Regions from separate parts of the Homo sapiens genome. Here regions 1, 3 and 4 are each reported to be linked to region 2. The links are microRNA targets in miRTarBase. Many come from high-throughput screens and were not tested one by one. Region 2 holds a microRNA gene; each other region holds the end of a gene's coding sequence.

Region 1 (7,113 bases), not on the chromosome of region 2:
ATGCCACTTGAAGGAACCGTAAGGCTTAGATTCTTTAACCATACTTTTTATTACTTTGTTTAGGCATAGGTTTAGTCTCTCTTATCAAGAGATCAGAAGCTGAATGTGGAGGCAGAATGATAGAGCAAATGATAGAGCGGAGCAGTGCTGCTAAGCAGCTAGGCATTTTTCTAGGCACTTCTCTGCTGAGGCTGTTTTAAGTAGGTGGACACCCTGTAGTTCATATATTTGCATGTTTATAGTTTGTAACATACAGAACATGCTTAGTCAAGTATAGATATTCTTTGTAATTAACCCTCAGAATAGTATGTATTCTGATCCCTTGTTCTTTATTCTCCAGGCACCATACAGGAAGATTACTTGAGAGAGCTGCTGACAACCATGGGGGATCGGTTTACAGATGAGGAAGTGGATGAGCTGTACAGAGAAGCACCTATTGATAAAAAGGGGAATTTCAATTACATCGAGTTCACACGCATCCTGAAACATGGAGCCAAAGACAAAGATGACTGAAATAACTTCAAATTCCAGCCAAACGTTCCTTGTTGCCACTTTGGGTATTCTGAGATTTTCTCTTGCATGCCCTTAGCTTTACAGCTTTTGCATTTCCTGTTGTATTTATTCTCAGCCATTTTGGGCATATGTATCTTTATAATCAGACTGGAAACGGGACTTTCTATTAATATCATTTTCAGAATAAAAAATAGGATAATTTAACCTACCAGCCCTTCTCCCCCAATAACTGTGGTCTATACAGAGTCAATATATTTTTTCAGAGAAAGTTATTCGCTCGATTTTTTCTGAATCATAATTAAACTTTATGATAAAATACTTACTTGTTTAAACTTCTTATTTACCAAACTTGGCTTTTGTTGGTTTCAGTCGTATCTCCCAAAGAAAGGTAGATGAGGGAAATCCTAGAAAATGATATGGTTGTTAGCTTTCTCTTCCTCCAGTTTTCCTAACAATCCTATCTCCTCTACTATCCATTCCTCCTCCTCCTCCCAAGGATATCCAATTTTAACTGCCCTAATCAGGTTTTCTGCACTTTGTCTTCCAATTTTTAAAATAATTTCCTGTAGAATTTGCATATATGATAGTTTCCATAGCTTTAAGTCCTTAAGTTGACATACCTGCCAACATTTCCACTTTATTTAAACTTTTGTAATTTCTGGTCATTTAAAATTAGACCAGGTTACTGAGTATAATTTCAATTTGTCATATTTTTAAAAACCATTTTGGCTTAAAGGTTCTGTGGAATGCTACCAAAGAGAGATTTTTATGTTATGTTTTAAAGTGCTGGAAATATAATGCAGTATTTTTTTTATTATATGTAGTTTTTCTTTAACACAGCAATGTGTATTGAAAGATATTTGTTTATGCAGAGATTCACCATGAGTCCATGTTTGAGTTTTGGACATTCCTGACCTTCCCACAATCAAAACAGCTGAACCTGCATGCCTGGGAAAGTGAGGTCATTATTTCAGTCCTAAAAATAACTTCTACTATTTGCAGAAATGCAGAACTGTTTCACAGTTAATCAGGGAGTGGCAGACAGTTTCGTTCTTTTTCAGCTTTAAAAATCTGACTCTCAAAGGGCTTCAAGATTCTCTTTTTTTTCCAGACAGGGTCTCTCGCTCTATCACCCAGGCTGGAGTGCAATGGCACGATCACAGCTCACTGCAGCCTTGACCTCCTGGGCTCAAGTGATCCACAGCCACCTGAGTAGTTGGGACTACAGGCAGGCACCACCATGCCTGGCTAATTTCTTAATTTGTTGTAGAGACAAGGTCTCATTATGTTGCCTAGGCTGGTCTAAAACTCCTGTACTCAAGTGATCTTCCCACCTCTGCCTCCTAAAGTGCTGGGATTACAGGTGTGAGCAACCATGCCCAGCCCAAAACTCTGACTCTCAAAGAGCATGAGTTTTAAAAGATTTGAAATGGAGAAAAATTTGGTTGAAAAGATTTGACAATTAGCCTATGAAGATGAGTAATTGACAATTACTATAATAACTTTAAGTTTTATGCTACGATTAACATGACTCTCCTTGGACAAAACCATTACCTCATTCAGTAAACAATTACTAAAAGCCTTCTGGGCAGCAGGCCTTTGCAGCCAATAAGATAGATCAGCTAGATCCTGTAACGTGGGAAGGCCAGTGCTATAGGAATAGAAGGACTAGTCAAAGCTAGTCCTTGACCTCTTCAGCATTAGAATCTTAGAACCTGCCTTCATTCTTTGTCTTTTGTTTCTGAATTTTATTCACTGGTTAAGCCAAAATACTTTTTCCAGGCTATGGCCATGGTGCTAAAATCTTGTTTTTTGAATTGAATTTCCATGTCAAGAGAAAAAATTATCATATGCTTTGTTACATCTCTAGTGAAGAACAGATAGCATTGTTTGCACTATATGAAAAACAAGGTACTACTAAAAGGATCTCTTGCAGGGCCCCTGTTTCCCTTTCAGATAAGTGCTTAATGAACCAACTTGCATTAAGAACAATGATGTACCCTGAATGAAATAATTCTCCTAATTTAGTAATAGCATTCTTTGCTTAAACAAGAGTGATTGCCAACAGAAAGGTAAAAGCATCCATTTCAATGGTGTGTTTGACTGAAAAATCAGTCTCAAAAGTTTCCATGATGAAAGTCATACTTAAACCATTTCAAAAGATCTGGCTAGGCACGTTGGCGCACATCTGTAATCCCAGCACTTTGGAAGGTCGAAGTAGGAAGACTGCTTGAAGCCAGAAGATTGACATCAGCCTGGGCAACAAAGCAAAACCCCATCTCTACATAAAAATTAAAAATTAGCCGGACATGGTGGTGGGTGCCTATAGTCCCAGCTACTCTGGAAGCTAAGGTGGAAGGATTGCTTGAGCCCAGGAGTTTGAGGCTGGAGTGAGCTGACTGTGCCACTGTACTCCAGCCTGGGGTGACAGCGAGACCCTGTCTTGAAAAAGAAAACAAAAATCGGACAAAACCAGCCTAATGGGGGTGGCATCCTTATCCACCTGCATATGATGATATGGTCATTTTGATTCCAGGCCCCAAATTTTACTTGATGAAAGAATCTATAACTTGATGAGAGCAGGAATTGAATGCTCCTGGGAAAGAAAGGAGGAAGGCCTGAGCATAAGAGACAAGTAACAGCAAATTGAGAAGGAAAGGAAACCATTTGCTACAAAGTGAAAAGAGGAAGGACAGCAAGAGGCTTAACACCTAGACTTGAGGATCAGATAAAAAATGATCAGAGTTTGGAGAGGTAAATAGAGCCACAAAAACAGTCTTACGGAAACCTAGTTAATTTCAAGAGTAAGGAGGTTGGCAGTGTCCAACACAGAAAAGTGGAGTATGGGAAGGTTTAAATGAGACCCTCCCAGATGTGACAAGTCGTTAGTCATGTTTGCTAGAGTTATTAGAGTTCTGAGTGCAGAATCCATAATGCAGCACAGGATAGTGAATAATGCCTAGGTGTGGGGTCAGGCAGACCTACACTTAATTCCCGTTTGTTGCTACGTCATGGCTCTATAACCTTAAGTCAGTTATTTAAACTTCCTTGGCCTATTTATTCATTTATAAAACGGAAATAATACTGTTGGTTCATATTAGGAACATAATATATAAAGCAGCATTTGTGTGATTAAGAGCAGCACGGATTTGGAGCCATACTTAAGTGAATTGCACCTGCCTATTTGACTTTGTGTTCTTAATTGCCAGTTTCCTCATCTGTAAAATGGCCAATACCATCCAAGTTTCTTCTGAAAATTAGAAGCATGAAAGACAAATGGTCTGGGACACATTAGGTCTCCAAATAGTAGTTATTTTGTTTACGAGTGGGCCAGTGAGAAGGGGCAAAGGGCATATCTTCAAATTCAAGCCTGTTTATAGGCAGAGTAGAAGACAACAAACTAGGGGGGAACAATTAGTGAAACAAAATGGATCATGTCTAAGAGCTAGGATGTGACAGAACCTAGACCACGTAGGATTGCCCTTAGAAAAGTGGATGGATTTCAAGGTAGAATTTCATTAACAGGTTGTTAGGAAGATTTTATAAGACTATGCATACAAATGCCTGTCAGTTTGGTACTAGTGGATTCTGAAATAGTTCACTTTCGATTTCCTGAGCAGGTCCAATATGCCAGACTTGTGTGTGTCGAATTAGGTCCTCTTCACGGGTACAGTTTATTTTTTCTGTCCATAAAGGGATTGTAGTAGCTAATCCCACATTGAAGAAATGCCCAGTTTTCCCATTGCTGCTTATTCGAGTCATTTCCACTTGCTCTTCCATCTTCCAAGTCCCTATATCTTTTTAGTCTAGATTTCTCTGTGTCTGCTCAAATAGCAGGAAATGTGACTTTTCTCCAGTATTTATCCACACACATTTTAGAGTTGTAATGAGTTTACAACTTGTTTTTTCGTTTACTACTTAAATTATATCTCATGTTTTGGCATAGCCACCATTGTTTTGAGTATATTTCTTTTTCAACCATTCTTAACTTCAGTTATCTTTGATGTGGGCATGCTATAATTAACAATTTCCCAATGATAGATATTTAGCTATCCAGCTATTTTTATTAGTGAATAAATTTTTATTCATGATTAAACAAAGCCTATTATAGGCTTTTCTTTTGCATCTAGAGAGAACAATATACCTTAGAATTATTTCTTCAGAATAGTGCTGTCAAATAGAAGCTTCTGTAATTAAGGAAATGCTCTCTGTGCCATACAATAAGGACACTAACCACATGTGGCTATTGAGCACTTAAAATGTGTCTAATACTAGCCAGGCGCGGTGGCTCACGCCTGTAATCCCAGCACTTTTGGAGGCCCAGGTGGGCGGATCATGAGGACAAGAGATTGAGACCATCCTGGCCAACATGGTGAAACCCCGTCTCTACTAAAAATACAAAAATTAGCTGGGCGTCGTGGCACAGGCCTGTAGTCCCTGCTACTCGGGAGGCTAAGGCAGAAGAATCACATGAACCCGGGAGGCAGAGGTTGCAGTGAGCCGAGATCAAACCACTGCACTCCAGCCTGGGCGACGGAGCAAGACTCCGTCTCAAGAAAAAAAAAAGTGTCTAATACTGCCAGACGCACTGGTGCGGTGTCTCTCACCTGTAGTCCCAACTACTTGGGAGGCTCAAGTGAGAGGATCGCTTGAGGCCAGGAGTTCCAGGTTGTAGTGCATTATGATCACGCCTGTGAATAGCCAGTGCATTCCAGGTTAGGCAACATAGGGTGACCCCATCTCTAAAAATAAAACGTATCAAATACAACTGAGGAACTAAATTTAAGTTTAGCTGCATGTGGTTAGTGACGATTGTATTGGACAGCACAATTCTAGAAACTTTTTTTTTTTTAATTTAGACTATCGAACCAAAACCTAAGAGTAAATATTGTAGAACCAGGTGTGACTTTTCAGCAATTGCTTTTCTAACACTATTGAGAAAATACACACAGTTATGAACCGCGTTTAGAGCTGTGCTGCTGGGATGGCGACCACCCCATCAGCATCATGTGTGCTTACCAGAAATTCGAATTATCCTCCACCCCTTACTCACTGAATCCTGATACCCGGTTTTGAGGCTCAAAAATGTTTTTAAAAGCCCTGTTATTATGCGTGCTACTGTTTAAGAACTGCTACAGAGTGCTGAACACAAGGTCCCTCTCTTCTAGGAATTTCTGATCAAAGATTTCTAGAATATAAACTCCCTAAGAGGCTTTGAATTCATCTCTCAGCATCCGGCACATGTTAAGGCAGTAAGAAGAGTTCAATAAAGATTTGCTATTAGATTGCCGATCCTCCACCATCCTGAAGTAATGCTATTTTAGTAATGCTAGATGAAGTAATGCTAGATTACCTCAAGGTGAGGGAAAATATCCTGAAGAACACAGCCACAAACACGATCTAGAACAAAACCTGAAAAACGTAGCTTTGTGTTTTTATTTGTGTGTGCATGTATGTGTGTGCGTTGCCATTTTCTTGATAAAGGAAAGCAAGTAGTTCGAATAAAACTTTCTTGTGGCCAAAAGGGGAATCAAACAGCCGTAGGCTGCGGCCGTAGCCTGATACGGCCGTAAACCTTATGAGGGTAAGCAGAGAGGAGTAGGTTAAAGAATTTAACTCGGGCTGTAATGCGGTTTGAAAAGAGAAAGGGATTCTGGAACGGAGAAGAATCCGCCCAGGCGCCGCCCTCACCTTCTCAACATTACATGAGACGAACCCTAAAACCTGTCTTGTCTGAAATTCAAATTTAGAAGAACTGTACTTTTACTTGCTACATCTGGCAACTCAGGGTTCGGCGCCAGGGGACCCCAAATCCTAGGCGGATCGCGCCCCGCCTGGGTCAAAGGGGACCCCAAATCCTCGGCCGATCGCGGCCCACTCGGGTCAAATTCCAGCGGCCTGCCCAGCCGCGCCCAGCGGGCCCAGGAATGCGGAAGGGTGGCGGAGCTACCAAAGGAGCGGGGGACGAGGGCCGGGCTGCGGACGACCGCCGCAGCGCAGGCCGCGATATCGCAGCGGATCGGAGCAGGCCGGAGGGGCAATTAAGACCCCGGCCGTGTGCGTCCGGCCTCAGCAGCCCCGCCGCTCGGCGGACACGCAGACCCCGCCGGCCCGGGCGCGAACACTCAGCGCACCCCCGTTCCACTTGGTCCCGCCGCGCCTTCCGGTGCGCCTTCCGGTGCGCCTTCCGGTGCGCCTTCCGCTCCGCCCCTTCAGGCAGGAAGTGTCGGCGCCGCCACTGTCCGGCCACAGCCTAACGCTCTTCGCTGTCGTTTGTGGTCTCGCGCAGGGCGGCCCCGGTTCTGGTGTTTGGCGTCGGGTGAGTCGCGCTCGACTCTGCTCGCGAGACCCCTCGGGCCGCCGTCTCCGTACCCCCGCGCCCCCTCCCGTCGCGCGCCTGCGGCCGGACCCCGCCCCAGGGCGGCCAGGCGGCGGCAGGACCTGTCAGACTGGCTGAGAAGGGGGCGCGGGGCCGGAGGTGGAGGGAGGAGGGTTGGCGGCGGGAGGAGGGTTGGTGGCGAGGCCCTGGCCCGGACGTCCAGGGGCCGGGAGGCTGCAGGCGATGGAGCCGGTATGGGGAGACGCCCTGCTGGAGAAGTG
Region 2 (7,107 bases):
CCCGGGAGCTGCGTGGATGCAGCCAGCTCTGAGCCTGAGCCTGAGCGGGGTTCGCCACTGGTTCGCCTGCCGTCTGCTCTGCTGCTATCAGCTGAGATGCTGCTTTGTTCCTTGGTTTGCTCAGCAACTGGGAGAGAGGACTCAGCTTCTCTTGAGAGCACAGTCCCAGATGGCAGCCGTAGATTAGCTAAATGCAGTTACTTTGCAGATGAGGAAACTGAGACCTGGGGACGTTCTGAGTGGATGGCAGTGTGGTCTCCTGCTGGCTACCCTGGGCCTCAGGAGCATTTGCTAGGCCTAGGCACAGACAGGGTGGGGTGGGCCTTGTTTAGGCGCAGGAGGCCAGGGTTGTGGTGGAAAGGCCCGTCCAGCCTCTGCGGCTCTGGTGAAGCTGAGCCCCTGCTGAGTGCCCTGCATTTGTGCTGGGAGGGTGGGGAGAGGCCGGATCACAGAGAGGCTGGATGCAGAAAGGAGGGGCTTGGGTCTCGTGTGTGTGTGTGTGTGTGTGTGTGTGTGTGTGTGTGTGTGTGTCCACCTTTGCTGAAAGGAGGGGCTTGGGATGGGTGTGTGTGTGTGTGTGTGTGTGTGTCTGTCTGTGCAGCCCCAGCAGAGCAGACAGGTGGCTTGAGAGCTTGTGGTGGGGAGGTTTTGTTCACAAACCTGTGGATGGGTTTTCAGAACCTGGCCTGTTATAGAAAGACCATGCAGATGGATGGAGCCGTAGCTGTGTGGTGGTGGTAGGCGGAGTGTAAATGCTCCCTTTGAGATCTTGTCTGGCCTTGGCCCCGTAATTTAGCAGATGAGGAAAGGGGGGGCCTGGAACCATGAAAAGGATATCCCAGATCCTGCAAAGGATGGTAGCGGAAGACTCAGCAAATGGTTACCCAGCTGGCTGGGTCGTAGCTCCTCAGCGCTATGTGCTGCCGTGCCAGTGCCTGTGTGGCAGAGCTGGCCCCTGGGGCCCACTCTCCTGGGCTGCGGAGGCTGAGGGATGTGAGGCAGGCCCTACACCCTGCTCTCCCCTTCCTGGGCCCAGGTGCTTGGGCCTGGAGGCCCTTGCTGGGAGCTGCTGCAGCTGAGAGGTGCCCCGCAGCTGGGCCTGACTCTCCTCTTGCGGCTGCCCCCACATTCCCAGTCCTCCCCAGCTGGCTGGCGGGTGGGAGAGCCTGGGAAATGAGTCCGCTAGCCAGAGGCAGCCAAGCCCCTGAATCAGAATGGGGTTGGGACGAGGGGGCACAGCCAGTGCTTGCTGGGCTCCATCACCCCCATGGAGAGGCAGCTTGCCAAGGGTGGGTAGACAGGAGGAATCCTGCCCTGGGTGCAGGTGGCAGCCTCCTGGGTCCTGCCCAGAGCCTGGCCACTGACCTGGCTGTGCATGGACCTGTGCCCTGCAGGTTGCACTTCCCCCAGCTGGCCCTGAGGCGGAGGCTGGGGCAGCTGAGCTGCATGTCCAGACCCGCTCTGAAACTGCGCTCCTGGCCCTTGACCGTCCTCTACTACCTCCTGCCCTTCGGCGCCCTCAGACCGCTCAGCCGGGTGGGATGGAGGCCCGTAAGCAGGGTAAGTGTGCACAGGCCCCTGTGGCTCGGACCTCCCTTCCGGGCAGGCCTGAGGTTGGGGTGCAGGAGAGACTGAGGTGGTGGCGAGCTGTCAGAAGCAGAGGTCACCGCTACATCTTCAGGGGGTCCGGGTCGGAAGGTTCATTGGTGGGCAAGGCCAAGGCAGCTTTTGAGAAGGCCACTACCTGGGCCGCGGGTGACTGCGAGGGCATGTCGTGCCCTGCCCACTCCCCTAGCCTGCCTCATGTCTGCCATTTGGGGCTCTGGTTCTGGAAGGAACCCAGTCTGGGGATTCAGAAAATGGTGTCTGTCTCTGATTTTTCTGTGTTCAAGCAAAAAAGAGCTTATAGGTGATTTTGAACAGAAGCCAAATTAATTCCGGGATGCCAAAGGGGTGGTTCAGGATGGATGGATCCTGTTTGGGTCCCTTAGGGTGAGGACACCCTTAAGGAACCCAGAGGCATGCCCCAGGAATGGGCAAGGGAACTGGCTTGTCCTCTCCTGGTCCCTAGAGGGCTTGCTCTTGCCCTTGGCTTCCCAGGCAGGTTGACCCCAAGGAGGAAACCCTGTTCCTGGGCCTTTGACAGTCACATGGGTGTCATCAGAGCTCAGGGGCACTGAGGCACCCTGGACATTAGCCCAGGCTCCCACCTGTGCCTGGGAAGGGCCTGGGCTCACATAGCCCTTCTGTGTGACTGGGCATCAGCTGGAAGGGATAAGAGCAGCTCTCTGGGAGCTTACCTTACCTTGGAGAGGTGTTGAAAGTTGGAATGAAATCAGTTTTACACCTTGGGGAGTTGGTGTCTTGGTTGTGTTTAGAGAAGCAGCAGCCACCAATTACAGGCAGCTTCTACAGTGGCAGCAGCACCTGAAGTTTAAGAGGCTGCCCCTTCCTGGGTACCTGGCCCTGCCGGAGAGCTCTGGGACCATCTAGTGGGACCCAGTGCTTGTCCCCAGGCCATCGTCTGTCTTAGGTGCTCCAGGCTTCCCTGAAGGAAGAGAGAACAGAGGGGCCTGAGGGGATGACTTCTCTTTGCCTCCTGGGAGGAACCCCAGGTGCAGATGGCTTTATGGCCTGGCTCAGTCACAGTAGAACGTTGAACACAAGTCCTGCCGTGGGGCCAAGGTGGGGCTCAGCAGGGCTGGGCTTCTCAGACTGGCTGCATCCAGGCCCTCAAGAGTGCTGGCTGGACCTGTGGGGGCTGCAGACCCTGTGTCTGCAGCTCAGGCCCAGGTGACAGTGACATCGCAGACCTGCATCTGAAAATCCCTGTTGGTGCTCAGGGTATCCTCCTTCTTCCTGTTAAGACAGAGGGACACACTTTGGGCTGTAGACTTGTTCCATGCACTTGGGAGCCTCCTCCTTTGGTGGTCTGGGATATGGGCAGTGACCACGGGCAAGATGCCCACCACCTCTCCACACACTGTGATATTGGGGTCACCGTGGCTAGGGTCACACACTGTGGTTAGGATCAGATCCGTTTCCGACCCCCACTTTAAGAAGTAAGACTGCTGGGCGTCTCCCGTTCTGGGACTGGAGCAGTTGCTATTTGACTTTTGCATGAAATGATGAAATCCACTGGAGTTGTATGTAAATCCAGCACTCCGTGTGGCAGGTGCAGTCTGGTTCCCAGTGAGAAACAGCCACATCACAAAAGCAGCGTGGGGCACCTGGGCCCTGGTGTCCTCCGTGGGGTGCAGATTCTCCCCTGAAGTGAGAGCTGGGCTAATGACACTACTTGGGCTCTCTGGAGCTGGGGCAGTGTGGTCAACTCAGCCCCTTGCCCTGTGGCCTGCAGGTGGCTTTGTACAAGTCAGTGCCAACGCGCTTGCTGTCACGGGCCTGGGGTCGCCTCAATCAGGTGGAGCTGCCACACTGGCTGCGCAGGCCCGTCTACAGCCTGTACATCTGGACGTTTGGGGTGAACATGAAAGAGGCCGCTGTGGAGGACCTGCATCACTACCGCAACCTCAGCGAGTTCTTCCGGCGCAAGCTGAAGCCGCAGGCCCGGCCTGTCTGTGGCCTGCACAGCGTGGTGAGGCCTGACCCTTTCCTCCTGCAGGAAACAGGACTTTTTCCTGCCTCCCCAGCACAGCCCCCCTGGTCTCCAGCGTATCTGGAAGGGGCAGGATGACAAGGGGAGGTGGGGGCTGTCTCCTGGGGGGAGGAGACCCTGCTCTCCCTGGCAGCAAGCCTCTCCTGCCCTTCCAGATTAGCCCATCGGATGGAAGGATCCTCAACTTTGGGCAGGTGAAGAACTGTGAGGTGGAGCAGGTAAAGGGGGTCACCTACTCCCTGGAGTCGTTCCTGGGCCCGCGTATGTGCACAGAGGACCTGCCCTTCCCACCAGGTGGGTCACTGCACAGGCGGGGCTAGGCAGCCCTGCTGCTGTGTGGCTGGACCGGGAGGGAGGGGAATGCTGGGGAAGGAACTGAGGCTGGCATGTGGGGCCTCCCTGAGAATCCATGTGCAGACCACACTCGGGCTCCGTGCTGGGTGCTCACTGTGTTGGTGGCCCCCACGTCTGCTCCTACTCCACAGCCGCGTCGTGTGACTCCTTCAAGAACCAGCTGGTCACCCGGGAAGGGAATGAGCTCTATCACTGTGTCATCTACCTGGCCCCTGGGGACTACCACTGCTTCCACTCCCCCACCGACTGGACTGTGTCCCACCGGCGCCACTTCCCAGGTCAGCCCGGGGCCAGCGTGGGGGGAGCTGCCTCTGTGGGCTTCATATAGAGGCTCTCAGCTTCTTGGTGTTGGGGGACCAGGCTCCAGATCAGGGTCATTGAGGCCAGGAGTTGACTGCTTTATGCAGGCTGGTTGTGGGCAGGGGACCGTGGGGCCCAGTCAGCTCAGCATTTGGAGTGACATCGGGGCAACAGGCCATGAGTCCCTTTGGGTCTTGGCTGCCATGGGGTGGACACACCGGGCTCTGGACGGGGAGTAGCGGCATTCCCTGCCTCTGCAGGCTCCCTGATGTCAGTGAACCCTGGCATGGCTCGCTGGATCAAAGAGCTCTTCTGCCATAACGAGCGGGTGGTCCTGACGGGGGACTGGAAACATGGCTTCTTCTCACTGACAGCTGTGGGGGCCACCAACGTGGGCTCCATTCGCATCTACTTTGACCGGGTAAGCAGGATCTAGGCCCTGCCAAAGCCCAAGGGCCAGACCTCTTGGGTCTACCTGCCTTGTCTGCTGTGCGGCGGATGCGTTGGGACTGAATTCTAGGGAGGCCACAGCTCTGGTCAGGCCTGGCTCTGCTGAGCAGCTGTCCTGAGAATGGCCGCTCCACCTGCCAGCCAGCTGAGGCTTCCCTCCCTCCTTGCACTGCTGGCTGGAAGTGGCTGGAAGAGATGGAGGGAATTAACCTCCTTGCCTGGCACCTGGCTTCTGCTAGGAACCATGGTCAAAGGTGAGAGTGAGGAGGGAACAGAAAGGGAGTGTTGAGCTCGGGGTGGCTCATGTTGGTTACAGCATGAGGGGTCAGCACTCGCAGGTCTGCTGCCCACCCTGCCCCCAGGGGCTGCCTTTTTGGGTGTCAGTTTGTGACCAACGGCCTTGGCTCCCACGGGTGCTGCTCTCCCAGCACCATGCATGGAGACCACTGGGCCCCACTGTTCCCTGTCCTCCCTGGGCCCAGTTCACAGCAGGTGTCAAGGCTGTGTGTGAGATCTGGCTAGAGCAGGCCCACCTGGCCCTGAGATGCCATCCCCACCTCCCTTTTGGAGCTGGGTTGGGTGGTGGTGGGGACAAGCAACAGAGGGAGTGGGACTCCAAACACATGTGGGGGTGACACTGTGCACTTGGTGGCCTGGGCCCCACTGACCCCCAGCCTATCACCACAGGACCTGCACACAAACAGCCCAAGGCACAGCAAGGGCTCCTACAATGACTTCAGCTTCGTGACGCACACCAATAGAGAGGGCGTCCCCATGCGTAAGGGCGAGCACCTGGGCGAGTTCAACCTGGGCTCCACCATCGTGCTCATCTTCGAGGCCCCCAAGGACTTCAATTTCCAGCTGAAAACAGGACAGAAAATCCGCTTTGGGGAAGCCCTGGGCTCGCTCTAGAGTCTCTTTCCTGATTATGGCTGCTAAGGGATCTTTTCCAAACAGAGTGAGGGTCTTTTCAAGAGGGAGGCCCATGAGGCCATCCAGGTAAGGGCCTGCCTCAGCGTGGTTGGGAGTCTGACCAGGTAGGACTTGAATGATTCGGCTACCACCTGTTCCAGAGGTGCAGACAAGAGGTGGCGAGAGCCCCCATCATGCCCCTCAACCTATCCCGTTCCTTCTGCCTACAAATAAAAAGTGCAGGCTGGAATGATCTCAGTCACATTTGGATCTTTTTAAACACTGTATAGACGGAAGAGCCTGCATTCCTGACCGAACCTTCAGTTGGTCTCGGTTGTCGTTTTTTCTTGCTGCTCCTCCCCCCATCACCTGAGCTGTTTTCTGTTGGCCCCTTTTGTTTTTTGGCCTTAACGCTCCTGCTGCACAGGGTGAGGTGCCTCCTTGGCACAGACTGTGGATGCCTCTCCCCCAGCAGAGCCACACAGCCTTCGTGACAACTGCTTTCCGTTCCCACATTCACCTCATCCTGCTCTTTAGAAAAAGCAGTCTTTGTGCTTGTGGCTGAACGCATCACCCTGGACTCTGCTAGTGTCTTCTGAGGACACTGATGACACTGATTAATGATACAGACCTTTGCAGGACCTGATGAGTGACCCTTCTGGAGCTGGCCAGGTCCTCTGCAGCAGGCAAGACCAATCAATCACTGAACCTGCCTCATGGCACCAGAGTGAACAGGGCAGGCAGGTAGTAGGCCCAGCTGGGGAAATGGGAGAGTTCCTGTCCCCCTCCACATATCCCTACATGAAATATGGGAAAGTTGCTGCTATTGATTCAGGGTCTGTCTTGGAGGCAGAGGACCCTTGGTGGATAGTTGGTCAGTGCCTGGAAAACCTGTCCCAGTTTATCAGGAACGCAGGCCTGGGGAGCCCCCAGTGGCGGGGACAGGGCCAGATTTCATGTTGACCCTGGGGATGCTGTGAATTTCTCCTGCAGGAGAGACATCATTGAATTTTTTCAACTGTATCAGTAGCACAGTATTTTTGTATGAAAAGTGGGAGACTTCTGAACAGTAATTCATTTAATTGCAAAGCATTTTGAAATAAAAAAAATCAAACTTAAAACTGTGTTCTGTTCCTGGAGGTGGCCTGAGGCCTCCCCGACAGCCCAGCACCTGCGTTCCTGGTGCGAACACGCTAGCACAGGGCCTGCCGCAGGGCCTGGATGCGGGCAACGCAGGCGCCAATGGGCTGGCGCTGAGCCTGGAGCTCCTCTGCCAGCAGCTGGATCTGCATTTCCACCTGGGGCCATGGAGGGACAGGCAGGGCTGAGAGGGAGCACAGCCCGGGGCGTCCCCAGGGACACCTGGGGATGGCCTGGGGCCTCACCTGTTCCAGCTCTTTCTGCACCTGCTGCTCTACTTCCTGGTCCTCAGGCCCCGGCTCCTCTCTGTTCAGCTCCAGCCACCTGCGCAGGCT
Region 3 (7,113 bases), not on the chromosome of region 2:
CCTCAAGCGCCGCCTGGCGGGCCTGCACCAGGTCACGCGGCTGCGCTACCGGAGCGTACGCGAGGTGTGGCAGAGCCTCCCGCCTGGGCCCACGCAGGGTCAGACGCCTGGCGAGCCGGCCGCTAGTCTCAGCGTACTTAAGAACGTGCCCGGCCTCGCCATCCTACTTTCCAAGGACGCGCTGGATCCGCGACAGCCCGGCTACCAGCCCCCGAATCCCCATCCTGGTCCCTCGTCCCCGCCAGCCGCGCCAGCGTCCAAGAGGAGCCTAGGGGAACCCGCAGCTGGAGAAGGCTCCGCGAAGCGATCGCAACCCGAGCCAGGGGTTGCGGACGAGGATCAGACGGCCTGAAACTCCGGACTGTGGGCCACCTAGTCCGGCAGGATCTTCCGCCAGCGCCTCCACCTTCAGATGTACCTCCAGCCTTTCACTCCTCGGTCCTCCGGAGCCCACAACCTGGACACAGCTCCTCAAGACAGGTAGCATGGACCTTAAGGCGACAAGAGAGGGGCCCCAGGAGTGGCAGGAGAGGATCCCCGACCACCCTAGGGAAACTTCGTGCGATAATTGCTGCTTATGCCCGTGTTGCGTGAAGACACGGAACTTCACCTTTTCTGGGACCTTCTTTGGGGGAGAATGGTGGACAGTGGGATTCTGGAAACTTGTTTGGGACCCCCAAGGGTTAAAGCCACCCAGCATTCACGAAGAGCACCTGAAGTATGGAAGCTGAGAAGAGTTATTGGAATCACCCCCACCGTTGACAGAGGAAGGCAGGGGGTGAGAATTAACTGCTTGAGGGTAGGAGAGTCTGAGATGTGGGGGCCCTATTCCGCTCCCCGCCCTGGGACAGTTTTCCTTTCTAGTTTTCTTTCCCCTGCTTCAGAGGAGCATCTCTGAGGGTTCTAGCTCTTTTAACACCCCTTTTCCCCCTGCTGGCCCAGAGGGAGACCCAGGACTGAACTCTCCAGGCCTCCTCCCCTGAGCCCTGCAGCTGGCTGGAGTCTTGCTTCCAATAAAACAAGCACAAAAATGGCTGTGTCCCCCATTTTTTTTCTAACCACCCGCCTGTGCAGAGACAGCTCTCGCCTGGCCCCTTGTGTCTCCCCTCCCCTCCAGCCTTGCGTCCTGAGTCTTTGGAGTCTTCAGGGTCAGGCACAGAGACTGAACAGCTTCAAAATGGTGCAAGGCACTGCCCAGTCCCTGGCTTCTTCCTCTCTCCTCCCCCACTCCGCCCTCCCGGGCTGGCCCTGGCCTCAGAGGCTGTTGCAAATGGGGGCCCGTGTACCCCTGTACATCGCCACTAAGGGAAAGGGAGCGGCACATTGTTTTTCTGGGAGGGGAAGGAAGGAGTGGAAGGACAGCATCGATGAACTCTCCTGGAGGTCACTGCAAAGGGTGGCAGACCCTGCTGAGGTCCCTGAATCTGCAGCCTCCAGACAATAAACTGAACCTTACCCAGAAGGCTGGCACAAAGCCCCCAGCTCTGTGGGTAGGATCTCCCCTTCACTGCCCTCTCTCTGAGAAAGGACAGCACACCCTTGGGAAAGGGGGAGGAGAGAGACTGAGCACAAATCCACTGCTGGAAATTACTATTCAGCAGAGAAGCTGGGTCTTGGGCTGTGAATCACTGCAGGCCTCCTGATAAGCTGCTGCCTCCAGCCCTGCACAGCTGTCTGTTGAGAGATAACAGCCTCATAAGCTTCTCTGCCCAACTCCAAGCCAGCTGGGGGGTGGGGGTGCTGCTGTGTGCTGGAAGAGCTCTGGTGAGTTGGGGGTGGCATACAGCCCCAGGATCTCAGAAGCAGATCTCATCCCATGCAACTCAGCAGCACCCCTGGAAAGGGGGAGATGCGGAAGAATGTATTTATAAGTCATTTTGCTGGCAGAACCCTGAAATAAATCCTGCTGGTGACAAGAGATACGTTCTGTGGCTGACTGGAGGGGCTCTTAGGGAGGTTTCCCTCCCCTGCAGTATCTCTGCTTGAGCTTTGGAGTGAGCTTTGTCATCCAGACTTTGTCCCTCGTTGCTCTCCCCAAATTCCTGCTCTTGATGAGTCCCTGGAGAGGGCCAAGGGGTTTGGGTTTGCTTGTCTGACCCTCTCAGGGGTGGCCCAAGAAGCATGGAAAGAATGTAAACTGTCCTGACAAGATGGCCTAGCTTCTCCTGGACTTCAGCATCTAAAGGCAGTGATAAAACTTGGACAAGGTCCTGCATGGTAGAAGCTTAAGGGAGACTGGTCTTGGTTCTGAAAAGGGTCCAACTTTCCAAGACAACAAGTGACTGATAGCCGGGTTACCAGGACTATGAAAGCAGGGCCTGAGGCCGGGCATGGTGGTTCATGCCTGTAATCCTGTAATCCCAGCACTTTGGGGGGCCAAGGCGGGCAAATCACGAGGTCAGGAGCTTGAGACCAGCCTGGCCAACATGGTGAAACCCCGTCTCCACTAAAAATACAAAAATTAGTCAGGCATGGTGGCGGGCGCCTGTAATCCCAGCTACTCAGGAGGCTGAGGCAGGAGAATCGCTTGAACCTGGGAGGCGGAGGTTGCAGTGAGCCGAGATTGCATCACTGCACTCCAGCCTGGGCGACAGTGTGAGACTCCGTCTCGAAAAAAAAAAAAAGAAAGCAGGGTCTGCTAGTCTTGTCACGGAGATAAGGCTGCAATGGATTTTTTTTTATTATTTTTTTTGAAACGGAGTATCTCTCTGTCGCCCGGGCTGGAGTGCTGTGGTGCGATCTCGGCTCACTGCAACCTCTGCCTCCTGGGTTCAAGCGATTCTCCTGCCTCAGCCTCCTGAGTAGCTGGGATTACAGGCGTGTATCCCCACACTCGGCTAGTTTTTGTATTTTTAGTAGAGAAGGGGTCTCACCATGTTGGCCAGGCTGGTCTCAAACACCTGATCTCAGGTGATCCACCCGCCTCGGCCTCCCACAGTGCTGGGATTACAGGCATGAGCCACCACACCCGGCCTCTCTTTTTTATTTTTTTTATTTTAATTATTATTATTATTATTTTGAGAAGGAGTCTTGCTCTGTCACTAGGCTGGAGTGCAGTGGTGCAATCTCAGCTCACTGCAACCTCCACCTCCTGGGTTTAAGCGATTCTTCTGCCTCAGCCTCCCAAGTAGCTGGGATTACAGGCATGTGCCACCACGCCCAGCTAATTTTTGTATTTTTAGTAGAGACGGCATTTCACCATGTTGGCCAGGATGGTCTCAATCTCTTGACCTTGTGATCCACCTGCCTTGGCTTCCCAAAGTGCTGGGATTAGAGGTGTGAGCCACCACGATTTTATATATATATATATTTTTTCGCCCGGCTGTAGTGCAATGGCACAATCTCAGCTCACCGCAACCTCTGCCTCCCAGGTTCAAGTGATTCTCCTGCCTCAGCCTCCGGAGTAGCTGGGATTATAGGTGTGCACTACCACGCCCGGCTAATTTTTTTATTATTAGTAGAGATGGGGTTTCACCATGTTGGCCAGGCTGGTCTCAAACTCCTGACCTCAGGTGATCCACCCGCCTCAGCCTCCTGGAGTGCTGGGATTACAGGCATGAGTCACTGCTCCCGGACTCTTTTTATTTTTTTATTTTATTTTTTATTTTGAGACGGAGTCTCACTCTGTTGCCCAGGCTGGAGTGCAGTGGCACAGTCTTGGCTCACTGCCGCCTCCGCCTCCCAGGTTCAAGCAATCCTCCAGCCTTAGCCTCCTGAGTAGCTGGGATTACAGTCGTGGGCAACCATGAGCAGCTAATTTTTGTATTTTTATTAGAAACGGGGTTTCACCGTGTTAGCCAGGCTGGTCTTGAACTCCTGACCTCAACTGATCCACCCGCCTCGGCCTCCCAAAGTGCTGGGATTATAGGGGTGAGCCACTGCCCCCGGCCTGCAGTGGATTTCTCTTGATGGGTCAGAAAAGTTCCCTTCCAGCCCAGAAACCTATCCTGGGGGGTAGAGAAGAGAGGAACATGTTTATCCAGCATCAGAGCATTAACCTTCCCCCAAGCAGGTCATGAAACACTTTCTTTTCTGCACTCCCGCCCCACCCCGGCAAGTTTGGTTCCCAGGCTTTCAGTAGGTGTGCTGACTCACCAATGGAACCCAGCACGCATGAGCACTCCATCTCTGCCCTACTGATTTCTGGCCCCACTGACCTAGGAGCAGGCTCCAAAAGAAGGTGACAGATGTTCCTCTACCCGCTCCCCACCACCAAGGCTGAAGTGGGAACCTCAGAAGTCCTGGGATAAAGGGAGGGGTGGCTAGGGGAGCACCTCAGAGACAAGGCCCATTTCAGGAGCCGACTAGTGGCAGAGTGGGAGAGTCCCTCTTGTGAAACCCCATTTTTCCAATAGTGGTCTCTACCCAGGAGCTTCCTGGACCCAGCCTGGTGCTTGCCTTGGCCCCGCCTTGGGATACTTCCAGACTAGGAGCGGCAGTGAAGTCTCACACCTAGAAAACTTAGGTCACAAAAACAAAATCCATTTGGAAACATAAAAGTATATAATGCAAGGCCCAGAGCTCATGGTCGAATGAGTGATGGACTTCCACCTGAGCCTTCATTCATTCAACAAGTGTTCACTGTTGTACCGGGACCCAGTCTAGAAATGGGCTGGGGCTGGGTATAGAATCACAGCATAATCAGACACTGTACCTCAAAGAGGGCCGAGTCTTGGCCAGGTGTGGTGACTCACGCCTGTAATCCCAGCACTTTGGGAGGCAGAGACGGGGGGGGGGGGGTCACCTGAGGTCAGGAGCTTGAGACCAGCCTGACCAATATGATGAATACAAAATTAGCCGGGCATGGTGGCGGGCGCCTGTGATCCCACCTACTTGGGAGGCTGAGGCAGGAGAATCGCTTGAACCCAGGAGGTGGAGGTTGCAGTGAGCTGAGATGTGCCATCGCACTCCAGCCTGGGCCCATCTAGCACAGTGTGATGATAGAAGATGGGAGCTCTGAGAAGGGGAACTTACCTTGCCCAGAGGTGCTGATGGAGCTGGTTCTCCAAGGATCAGGAGTTAGCCAGCTGACCAAGACTGGACAGGGAGCTCCAGGCAGAGCATAGAGAGCGGGTGTGTATGATGCTGAGGCTGCCACAGGTGTCTGATGGATAGAGGAGATGGCAGAGGGTAACGTGTAGAGATGCAGGTGAACTAGAGTGCTAGGTGGGAGCCAGGTCACAGGGAAGTGAGGGAGCCGGTGGGAGCCAGGTCACAGGGAAGTGAGGGAGCCACTGGGAGCCAGGGAGTGCTCTGAGCCCAGATCTGACTGGTGTTTGAGAAGGATCCCTCTGACACCTGTGTAAGTGGGAGTGGATTGGAAGGGGGTCTGATTAGACCCTAGAGACAATGCAGGGATAAGAGATGAGACATCGGCAATGCGGAGGGAGATGGGAGCAGATGTGAGAGCTACCCAGGCTAGGTAGGATTTCACTGCTATTACAGCCAGGAAATGGGAGGGTTCTCCTTGAGCATTAACCCTGCCTGGCCAGGACTTGGTCTGCCTTTCTGGCACCCCAGGGGACGTGCTATGTCAGGACCAAACAATGGAGTGATTATTTTTTGTGGGAGGTGGGAGTACCCAGCTTCAAATTGGTAAATCTTTAAGAGCTGTTGTCCATTGCCATGAATCTGCCAGAGTGTATTCACTTCACTGTTAGGTGCATACCTGGGCCAGACACACACACTGCCTACCCCCACCACCCCTTGCCCTTCATCTCCCAAGCTGATTAGTTCAGTTTTGGTCATTGCTATGCCCACACTGACCACTAGGTGATGCTCTCGTCCCTCTATTTCACTGAGATGTTGAAACACTCGCAGGTCTCCAAGAGAATGGTAGTTAGAAAGGCAAAGGAAAGGAAGGAAGGGAAGGAGAATGAAAGAGGAGGAAAATGCAGCCACAGGAGGGTCTCCTCAAAGGCATCAAGTTTCTTCCTTTCAGAGCACAGATACTGGTTTATAAGTGTGTCCTCATTAGTCTTATCTTTTGGCTATTGGTCACCCTACTAACCCATGAGCCCGTGATTGACTGGATCCTGCCTGCCTTGCTCCTTGCCCAGCTCCTGGCACATGAGAAGCTCTTAGAGAGTTGTTGATTGAATGGACTTGCCGCTGGCCAGGCACAGTGGGTCATGCCTGTAATCTCAGCATTTTGGGAGGCCAAGGTAGGAGCGCTGATCACTTGAGCCCAGGAGTTCCGAGTCTAGCCCTGGCAACATAGTGAGATACCATCTCTACAAAAAAAAAAAAAAAAAAAAAAAAAAAAAATTAAATAGTTGGATGTGGTGGTGTGTGCCTGCAGTTCAGTTACTCAGGAGACTGAGGTGGGAGGATTGCTTGAGTCTGGGAGGTCCAGTCTGCAGTGAGCCATGATCACTCCACTCTTTCAAACCAACAAAAGACTTTCTGAGCCAGGTTTCTGAACTGTTCTGATGTCACATTACAATTCTTAACCATCCAACCAATGGCCAAAGCTGCCCCTATCTCTTCCACAGCTTCTCATCCCATCTGAGCCCTTGGGTACCCCTGCCTTTGGAGAAGCTAGGGTCACCATGGCAATTGGGTTTGTATATTCAGCTTGAGGATTCCAGTGTTGTTTCTGACACCTGAATATTATAGGTGCTATGAATTGAATTTCGTGCCCCCCCACCAAGACATGTTGAAGTCCTAATCCCTGATACCTTATTTGGAAACTCTGGCTTGGCATGGTGGCTCATGCCTGTAATCAATCCCAGCACTTTGGAAGGCCGAGGCAGGTGGATCACCTGAGGTCAGGAGTTTGAGACCAGCCTGGCCAACATTGTGAAACCCCATCTCTTCAAAAATACAAAAATTGGCCAGGCGTGGTAACTTATGCCTGTAATCCCAGCTATTCAAGAGGCTAAGGCAGGAGAATGACTTGAACCCAGGAGGTGGAAGTTGCAGTGAGCCACCAGATTGTGCTACTGCACTCCAGCCTGGGTGACAGTGAGACTCTGTCTCGAAAAAAAAAAAGGAAAAAAGGCTGGGCACGGTGGCTCACGCCTGTAATCCTAGCACTTTGGGAGGCCGAGGCGGGTGGATCACCTGAGGCTGGGAGTTCGAGACCCGCCTAACCAACATGGAGAAACCCTG
Region 4 (7,093 bases), not on the chromosome of region 2:
CCACTTGCCCCTGACCCCCCTGCCGTGCCTCCCGCAGCCCTCCCATGCCGTTCCACTCCTCCCTGCCTCTGAGCCGAACATGATAATAAAAGCTATTATTGAGCGCTTACTGCATGCCAAGTAGCGTGCTGAGTTGGCACCTCCTGTTTATAGCCTGTCTCCTCTTCGGGATCGTGAGAATGAGCCAGGCCCTGTTAGCATCCCTATTCTACAGGCCAGGAGACCGAGGGCCAGGCAGCTCCAGTGACTGACTTGCCCACAGTCACATGGCTAGAGTCTGGTAGGGCTGGAAGTGGAACCCAGGTCTGGCTTTTGCATGTTTTTAAAGCTTCCCAGGGCTGCAAAGACACCAAGATCACAAGCACCTTTCACCGGCTTTGGGGGGGGGGGCTGATGTGTAACCCCCAGCTGCCTCCCCTCCACACACAATTCTGTTGATCTGGGGAGGCGCCGGGGGTGGTGAGAGAGACTCAGCCCTGTGGGGAACTGGGAGGCGCACCCTCTGCCAGCCCTGGAGGGAGGCTCCGACGACCGACCGTACCTGCAGCCTAAGCCTCCTCCCCCTGCCCACCACCATTGGCAGCGTTTGTGGGTCTGGTGCGGTGGGGCGGTGACCACGGACGGAGTGGGCTGGCTGTGCTCCAAGGCCCTCCCAAGAGATGTGCACCCCAGGGGAGCCGTGTGCAGTGTGTGGGGGGAGGAATGAGCGTTTCTATAAAAGGCAGGCTGGGTGAATGCACAGGCTCCGAGAACGGAGAATTTACCGACTTGGATTACTAGCTGGGCGTGGGACGCGGTGCCGTGGGAGGACATCTGCTTCCCTCTCTAGGACCCGACCCTCGGTCCACACCCACAGGGCAGGTGAAGCTGATGGAGGGGGCCTCAAGCGGGGTCCCAGCACCCCCAGGGGTTTGGGGTCAGCCCTGACTCCAGTACCCCTCCCTCCCCGCCTTCTAGGGATCCTTGAGGTCCCAAAGCCACCCCAGGGGACACTCCACTCCCACTAGCCTCCTGCCACTCGGGGCAGCCCACCCCTATCTATCTTCCTCTAACCGCCCAGCCTGGGGCTCAACTCCTTCCACCGGGTCACCCCCACTCTCTGCTGCCTTCTCCCCTCCACCTGTGCGATGTGATTTTGCCCTACTCTGAAACCCATCCCTGACGCCTGTCCCCAAGGTGCCCTGCCGGCTCTCCCCATCCACACTTGTCAGCTTCACAGTCACCAAGGGGCTCCTCACCCCAGGCCTCATCACACCAGTCAGGTGGCAGCTCTCCTCCCTGGCACACACCCCCAGCCCTGTGACCCCCAAGCTCTGACACTTCAGGGCCCCCACTTCCATCTTTAAGTCACAGGTGAAAGAGAAAGAGAATGATAACTTTATTCATGGTCACAGAATACCCCCGGGAAGGGGAAGGACCTGGCAGCAGGGAGTAACCACGACTGGTCAGTTGAAGAAGGTGAGGATGCTGGCCCCGAGGTGTACAGGAAGGGGGAAAATGTGCGAGGGCCTTTACGGTGGGCAGTGCCAGCTATGGCCCCCCAGCAGACAACAAGGCACAGTGGGGCTTGGGGACTGGGGGAGGCCAGCCCTGTCCGCCTGTCCTTGACATCAGGAGGCTTGTGAGTGGAGTCCTGCAACCCCCACCCAACCCCTGTACAACGGGGGTTCCATTTCTGAGACCCCCAAAGTATGGGGCATCTTAGAGGCCCGCCCCACAGCTGAGCATCATCTCAAGGACCTTCCCCCATGACGGGATCCTCAGAAAGAGCCAGGGCCAGCCGAGCAGAACCGAGGGGCAGGGCGGGGGGCCTGGTGTGGCCTCCTGCCCGCCATGCCCCTCACCTGGCAGGGGTGGCTGCCCGACCCAGAAGCTCCAGGGGCACCAGGAACGGGTTCAGGGGACAGATCCCAGCTGCTTGCCAAGGCGATTTCAGTTCGCTGTGCTCGGCCTTCTCGGTGGCTGGGGGGGTCTCCTCTGGTGCCTTGGAGCCAGCCCCATCCCCTTCTGCTGCAGGCCCCAGGCTCCCTCCAGCGGGAATGGGCTGGGGGGCTGTCAGGCGTAGGTACGTCTCCGTCATATGCTCAACCAGGGCTGTGCAGGGCAGGAGTGGCAGCTCCTCTGGAAGTGACATGAGCAGGTCGAGGACCACAGCGGACTCTAGTGATGGATGGAGGAGAGGGGTAAGGGGACACCCCTGCCTGCTGCCAGGGACCCTTGATCCCTCTGCTCCTGCCCCCTCCCTCACCCTTCTCACCAGCTGCTGAGAGCTCGGGGCTGCGGCCACTTCGGGAGACAGAGGACAAGTACTTGTAGATCTTCTCAAAGTCCACAGCAAAGTCTTCTTCAGTGGAGGGACCAGCCGACGACTCAGAAGGTTTCTCAGGGGCAGGGTCAGGAGTCCTGGGTGCGGAGCTAGGTGCAGCAGGGGCAGAGCTAGGTATTTCAGGGGCGGGGTCTTCCTGTCCTCCAGGGGCGCTCAGGAGCAAAGGCTTTCCACGGGCCTGCGTGGGCTTGGGGGGCTTGGAGTGCAGGAGGGTGACCGGTTCCGTGGCCGCGATGGTGAGCACCTGGCAGGCAGAACAATCAGGGAGGAAGAGGAGCTGGGAAGTCTTCTCACCGTCTACACATTCCCCCATCCTCCCTGCCACCCTAAGATGCTCCTCAGACAAGAGATGGCCTCAGAGCCAGGGACACTGAGGCTCGAGGTGTCCAGTGACTGACGGAGTCCACAGAGCTGGCAAAAGGGCCCAGGACCCAGGTTCACATGATTTGGCCCATGTGACCCTGTCCTCTGGGACACCCTGACCTGCCTGGGGGAATGGCGGTACCTGCGAGAAAGCCACTGCCAGGGCTTCTTCCAGTGGCCCTGTTATCTTCTCAGCCAGATCCGTCCAGACCTGAGTGAAGCCAGAGGTACAGGGTCAGCCCAGGGATCAGCCTGCAATGGCCCCCCAAGCCCTGCTCCTCCTGGGGATCCCCTAATCAGGTTATCCCCCGCAACTCCCACCTACCCACCAGGGACCTGCCCTGGACAGCCTCACCCTGTTCATCTGCCTCACCTCTATGGGGGCTGGGGGCTGTGCCTCCCGGCGCCTTGGTCCCTGAAGGCCACCCGGATGCACTTTCTGAATGGCCTCCCGGGCTACGCGGCCCTTGAGCTGCTGGAGGAAGACCCGGATCTAGAAAGGAAAGAGGCGGCGGAATGAGGCTTCTATGAGCTCAGGGCTGCAGCAGAGAAGCCAAAGCCCAATCCCTTGTATGCTCTGGGCCCCGCTACTGCGCCTTAGTCTCCTGCTGGCCCGGTGTTAGGAGTCCCAGTGACTGCCAAGGCCCCTACCCCACCCAGAGCGTGACCAGCTACCTAAGGAAGTTGTAAGGCCCAGGCCAGTTCCGGCTCCTTCACGCAGCCAGGGCCCAACCCTATGCTGACTACTACCCCGTTCAACTCCCTTCTTCGTCCCCTCTTCTCTATTCCCTCTCACTTCAAGCTCGTATCCTGTCCAACAGCATGCGTTGCTTTTCGCCCGGACTCGGCAGCATCTTACTCCCAGTTCATTCCGCCCGTTTAGCCCTCGCCTCACCCACGCATTACCCCGAGGCTCGCCCCGCCTTTAAAGCTTGCCCTCATCCCGCCCACGCCCCTCCCACGCCTTACTCCCAAAACGGCCCCGCCCTTAAGTCTTGCTATTAACCCGCCCACGCCCCGCCCCCAGGCTCGTCCTGCCCCTCAAACTCACCCACCCACTCTCCAAACCTCAGCGGCACGCACGCCCCGCCCCCGGCATCGCCCCGCCCCTCCGCTTCACTTATGCCCCGCCCACGTCTAGCTCCCAAGCTCGCCCCGCCCCTAGGTCTTCTCTTCCCGTCCACGCCCCGCCCCTCACCCCGCCCAGGCTCACCCACTAACGCCCCGCCACTCAGCCCCACGCCACGCCCCCGCTCGCTTACATTCCTGGCCCCGCCCCGCTGGCTCCTGCCGCAGCCCCGCCCACTCTCCGCCCCACCCCAGCCCCGCCTCCAGCCTGGCTCCGGTCCCGAGAACCGCATCTCACCTCAGCCTCGCTCCGGCCCCGCAGCTCCCGGGCCAGCTCGGTGGCGTCCGGCTCCGGCTGGCCCTGCCGCGCCTGCAGGAGTCGCACTAGCTGCCGCTTCTCGCGAGCGCTCCAGGTCGCGGGACCGGTCACCTCGCCCAGATAGCGCGCCGGGGCCGCTCGCCGCCTGGGAGGTGGCTTCATGCCGCTCAGAAAGAGGCAGGCGCTGTAAGGTCGCTTCTCCGATGGGCGGAGCTACGGGGGCCGCCGAGGTCAGAAAGAACCGCGCGGAGGCGGACGCGCGTGGGGGCGTGGCTTCGCGTTTGGAGGCCCGGGGAACCGCCCCAATGGAAGTGAAGGGGAGATCGGCACCGGAACTGGGGCGGGGCGAAGGAGACCCTCAGCCTGCACTTTATCTCATTCATGAAGTGGAGACGACACCTTGGATCCCATGCCCTCCCTCTGTTGCTGGACTAACTCATGAAGCTACTACTGTGTGCTTTGCTTCTCGCAGAGGGGTGGGTTCTGGCCGAAAGGTCAAGTCCGAAGATCCAGTCGGTCAAGAGCCTGGGCTCTGGGGTCAGACAGGCCTGGGGACTTTGGGCAAGTGATTTAGCCTTGCCGAGCCTCAGTTTCCTCCTCTGTAGACTGGGGCTGATAGTCCCACTCTTGTCTGTGTAAGGTAGAGTGGAGCTCGGGCAGGAGGGATTTAAGGAGCTCTAGACTAGACTGACAATCTAAGAGGAGGGCGAAGTCCAGACCAGGAGGGAACTGGAGCAGAGGCAGAAGGTCGAAGCGGAGCTAGGGCAGGGTCCGGGCGGGGGTAATGGAGAGCGGAGAAGGCCTGGCTTGAGAAAGATCGCAGGAGGCAGATGGGCAGGTGTCCGGGTAAGGAGAGGAGGGAGGGGGAAGGTTTATTTTAAACTTACGCTTGTGGGGTTGGGTGCCGCTTTTTTTTTTTTTTTAGACAGATTTTTGCTCTTGTTGCCCAGGCTGCAGTGCAATGGCGCGATCTCGGCTCACTGCAACCTCTGCCTCCTGGGTTCAAGCGATTCTCCTGCCTCAGCCTCCCCAGCAGCTGGGATTATAAGCACGCGCCACTACGCCCTGCTAATTCTTTTTTTGTTACTTTTTTTAGTAGGGACGGGGTTTCACCATGTCGGCCACGCTGGTCTGGAACTCCTGACCTCAAGTGATCCACCCACCTCGGCCTCCCAATGTGCTGGGATTACAGGCGGGAGCCACCGCGCCCGGCCGGGTGTCGCTTTCTGTTTGAGACAAAACGCCCTACAGTCTCCCATGGCCTGGGAGTGCACACGGGTATATGGGCATATGGGCCCCGTCCCCAGGCTCCACCCCTGTAAGTCACGATTTCTCAGGAATACCCCCCAAGTCCTGCTCCCAGCTTTCTCCCCAAGCCTCCCCACCTATCCCCCACCCCGCACGTTGCGCGCTCACTGACTGCACCAGAACTTAGCCGGTCAGTCCAGAGGTTTATTTTGAGCACAGGTGGGAGGGACAGGGGGAGGAGAGAAGCGCAGGGGTCGTGGCCTCATCAGGTCCGAGGTCCAGGGAGGCGGGTCCGGTCCTGTTGGTCCTGGTCCCGAATTGGTAGCTGGGTGTATCTCCGGACCATGTTGGGGGCGCACCATCCCTGGGAGGGGTGGCTGAGGCTCAGCGAGGGAGGGGACGCTACGCGGGCCACCTCCCTTCCCAGCAGACCACTAGCCTCTTCCATCGGTCTGCATGCCGGGGTGAGAGTGGGAGCCGGGTCCGAATGCTGAGTTCTCCTCGCCTAGTGCCTCTCCTCACCTAATGCCCCTGGCTCGACCCAAAGCCCGCGCCTGCCGCGGGTGACCCACTGCCTGAGTTCGAATCCAAGCTCCACCCAGTATTGTGACTTTTGACAAGTTACTTAATTCAGAGAATGCCTCATCATTCTCGTCTCTAAAATGGGGATTATAATAGTGTCCGCCTAGAGGTTAAGGGGATTAAGTTAGTTCATAGGCGTAAAACATTTACAACAGTGCCTGGAGGCTGGGCGCAGTGGCTCACGCCTGTAATCTCAGCACTTTGGGAGACCGAAGCGGTAGGATCACCTGAGGTCGGGTGTGCGAGACCAGCCTGACCAACATGGAGAAACCCCGTCTCTACTAAAAATACAAAATTAGCCGGGTGTGGTGGCGCATGCCTGTAATCCCAGCTACTCAGGAGGCTGAGGTAGGAGAATCGCTTGAACCCGGGAGGCAGAGGTTGCGGTGAGCCGAGATCGCGCCATTGCACTCCCGCCTGGGCAACAAGAGCGAAACTCCGTCTCAAAAAACAAACAAACAAACAAACAAACAAACAAAAAAACCACAGTGCCTGGCACGAACTAAGCGCTAGGAAGCGTCACTGTCAGATCTCCTACCTCACCCAGCTCCCTCCACCTCCATACCTACCTTCCTCACTGGGACCTCCTGGGCTGGGGACCGCTGGGCGAGGCTCTCGCGGGCGGGCCAGGGGCGTGGGGCGCTGGAAGGGAGAGGCGAGCTGCAGAAGGGCTGCTGCGCGCCACGCCAGGCTAAGGGCGGCCCCTGGGGGCTGCTGCGGGCATCGCGGAGGCAGGCCTAGCTAGGGTTGATCAGGCCCCGCAGGCGGGATCGCGGCCGCCCCGGGTCCCGACGCGCGGGATTAGACTGGGGGCCCGGCTTGGCGGAGGTCGTCGGTACCTGAGTGCGCACAGACGAGACCCAGCCCGGCGGCCAGCGCGGCGCCCAGCACGAAGGCTGCCAACACCAGCGCCACCACCGGCGCGGGTTCCAGGGCCGCGGGGGCCGGCGCGGGAGGCTCAGGGCGCACTGCACGGCCGGGGACACTCTTGGGCGGCCCTGTGGGAAGTGCCACGCTGAGACTGGGTCCAGCTCCCAGGCGTCCTTCCCACCCGCTCTGCCGCCCCACGGCCCCATGCGGAGGAGGACTGCGTGCTCACTGGGGGGCGGCCGCGGCACGGTGACCACGATAGGCTGCGTCAGCGTGTGCAGGTGGGGGCCGTCAGCAGCCAGGCCCTCGGCGCTGCC

The links. The annotated mature microRNA hsa-miR-7109-5p reads CUGGGGGGAGGAGACCCUGCU and lies in region 2 at 3,718-3,738, shown strand. An mRNA with a match to its seed (bases 2 to 7 or 8) in the 3' UTR can be bound and repressed. Matches are read on the target gene's strand: a 7mer-m8 pairs with bases 2 to 8, a 7mer-A1 pairs with bases 2 to 7 and ends in A, and an 8mer does both.
Region 1: the mRNA of MYL12A is a reported target of hsa-miR-7109-5p. Seed matches in the 3' UTR shown: 7mer-A1 at 733-739.
Region 3: the mRNA of RPP25 is a reported target of hsa-miR-7109-5p. Seed matches in the 3' UTR shown: 7mer-A1 at 674-680.
Region 4: miRTarBase lists TGFBR3L as a target of hsa-miR-7109-5p. Seed matches in the 3' UTR shown: 7mer-A1 at 5,672-5,678.

The regions. Positions count from the first base shown.
Region 1 is chr18:3,255,406-3,262,518 of GRCh38, forward strand. It overlaps MYL12A (myosin light chain 12A), which reads left to right. Exons shown (of 4, transcript NM_006471.4): 4 at 341-831. The coding sequence ends at 513. MYL12B (myosin light chain 12B) reads left to right here and starts at 6,728. Exons shown (of 4, transcript NM_033546.4): 1 at 6,728-6,832. It overlaps MYL12-AS1 (MYL12A and MYL12B antisense RNA 1), which reads right to left and starts at 6,954. Exons shown (of 4, transcript NR_130145.1): 1 at 6,648-6,954; 2 at 5,867-5,925; 3 at 837-917; 4 at 31-433. RefSeq lists an enhancer at 6,124-6,173 and a silencer at 6,384-7,113.
Region 2 is chr22:31,618,137-31,625,243 of GRCh38, reverse strand. It overlaps MIR7109 (microRNA 7109), which reads left to right and starts at 3,713; the gene lies at 3,713-3,777. SFI1 (SFI1 centrin binding protein) reads right to left here. Exons shown (of 33, transcript NM_001007467.3): 32 at 7,018-7,107; 33 at 6,656-6,930. The coding sequence ends at 6,826. It overlaps PISD (phosphatidylserine decarboxylase), which reads left to right. Exons shown (of 8, transcript NM_001326411.2): 4 at 3,359-3,595; 5 at 3,772-3,910; 6 at 4,102-4,248; 7 at 4,531-4,691; 8 at 5,408-6,753. The coding sequence ends at 5,632. RefSeq lists enhancers at 218-771, 1-1,865.
Region 3 is chr15:74,949,223-74,956,335 of GRCh38, reverse strand. RPP25 (ribonuclease P/MRP subunit p25) reads left to right here. Exons shown (of 1, transcript NM_017793.3): 1 at 1-1,918. The coding sequence ends at 352. Among named protein-coding and RNA genes, the nearest start is that of RPP25, 4.0 kb to the left of the region's middle. RefSeq lists enhancers at 1-814, 815-1,748, 5,600-5,649.
Region 4 is chr19:7,917,512-7,924,604 of GRCh38, reverse strand. TGFBR3L (transforming growth factor beta receptor 3 like) reads right to left here. Exons shown (of 7, transcript NM_001419781.1): 4 at 7,006-7,093; 5 at 6,746-6,904; 6 at 6,476-6,548; 7 at 5,508-5,688. The coding sequence ends at 6,481. It overlaps SNAPC2 (small nuclear RNA activating complex polypeptide 2), which reads right to left and starts at 4,267. Exons shown (of 5, transcript NM_003083.4): 1 at 4,056-4,267; 2 at 3,063-3,182; 3 at 2,832-2,900; 4 at 2,258-2,570; 5 at 1,355-2,160. The coding sequence starts at 4,238. The coding sequence ends at 1,841. CTXN1 (cortexin 1) reads left to right here. Exons shown (of 2, transcript NM_206833.4): 2 at 1-114. RefSeq lists enhancers at 2,437-3,039, 4,740-5,239, 5,915-6,790, 6,791-7,093 and silencers at 3,708-3,907, 3,988-4,217, 6,480-6,549, 6,670-6,759, 6,820-6,919.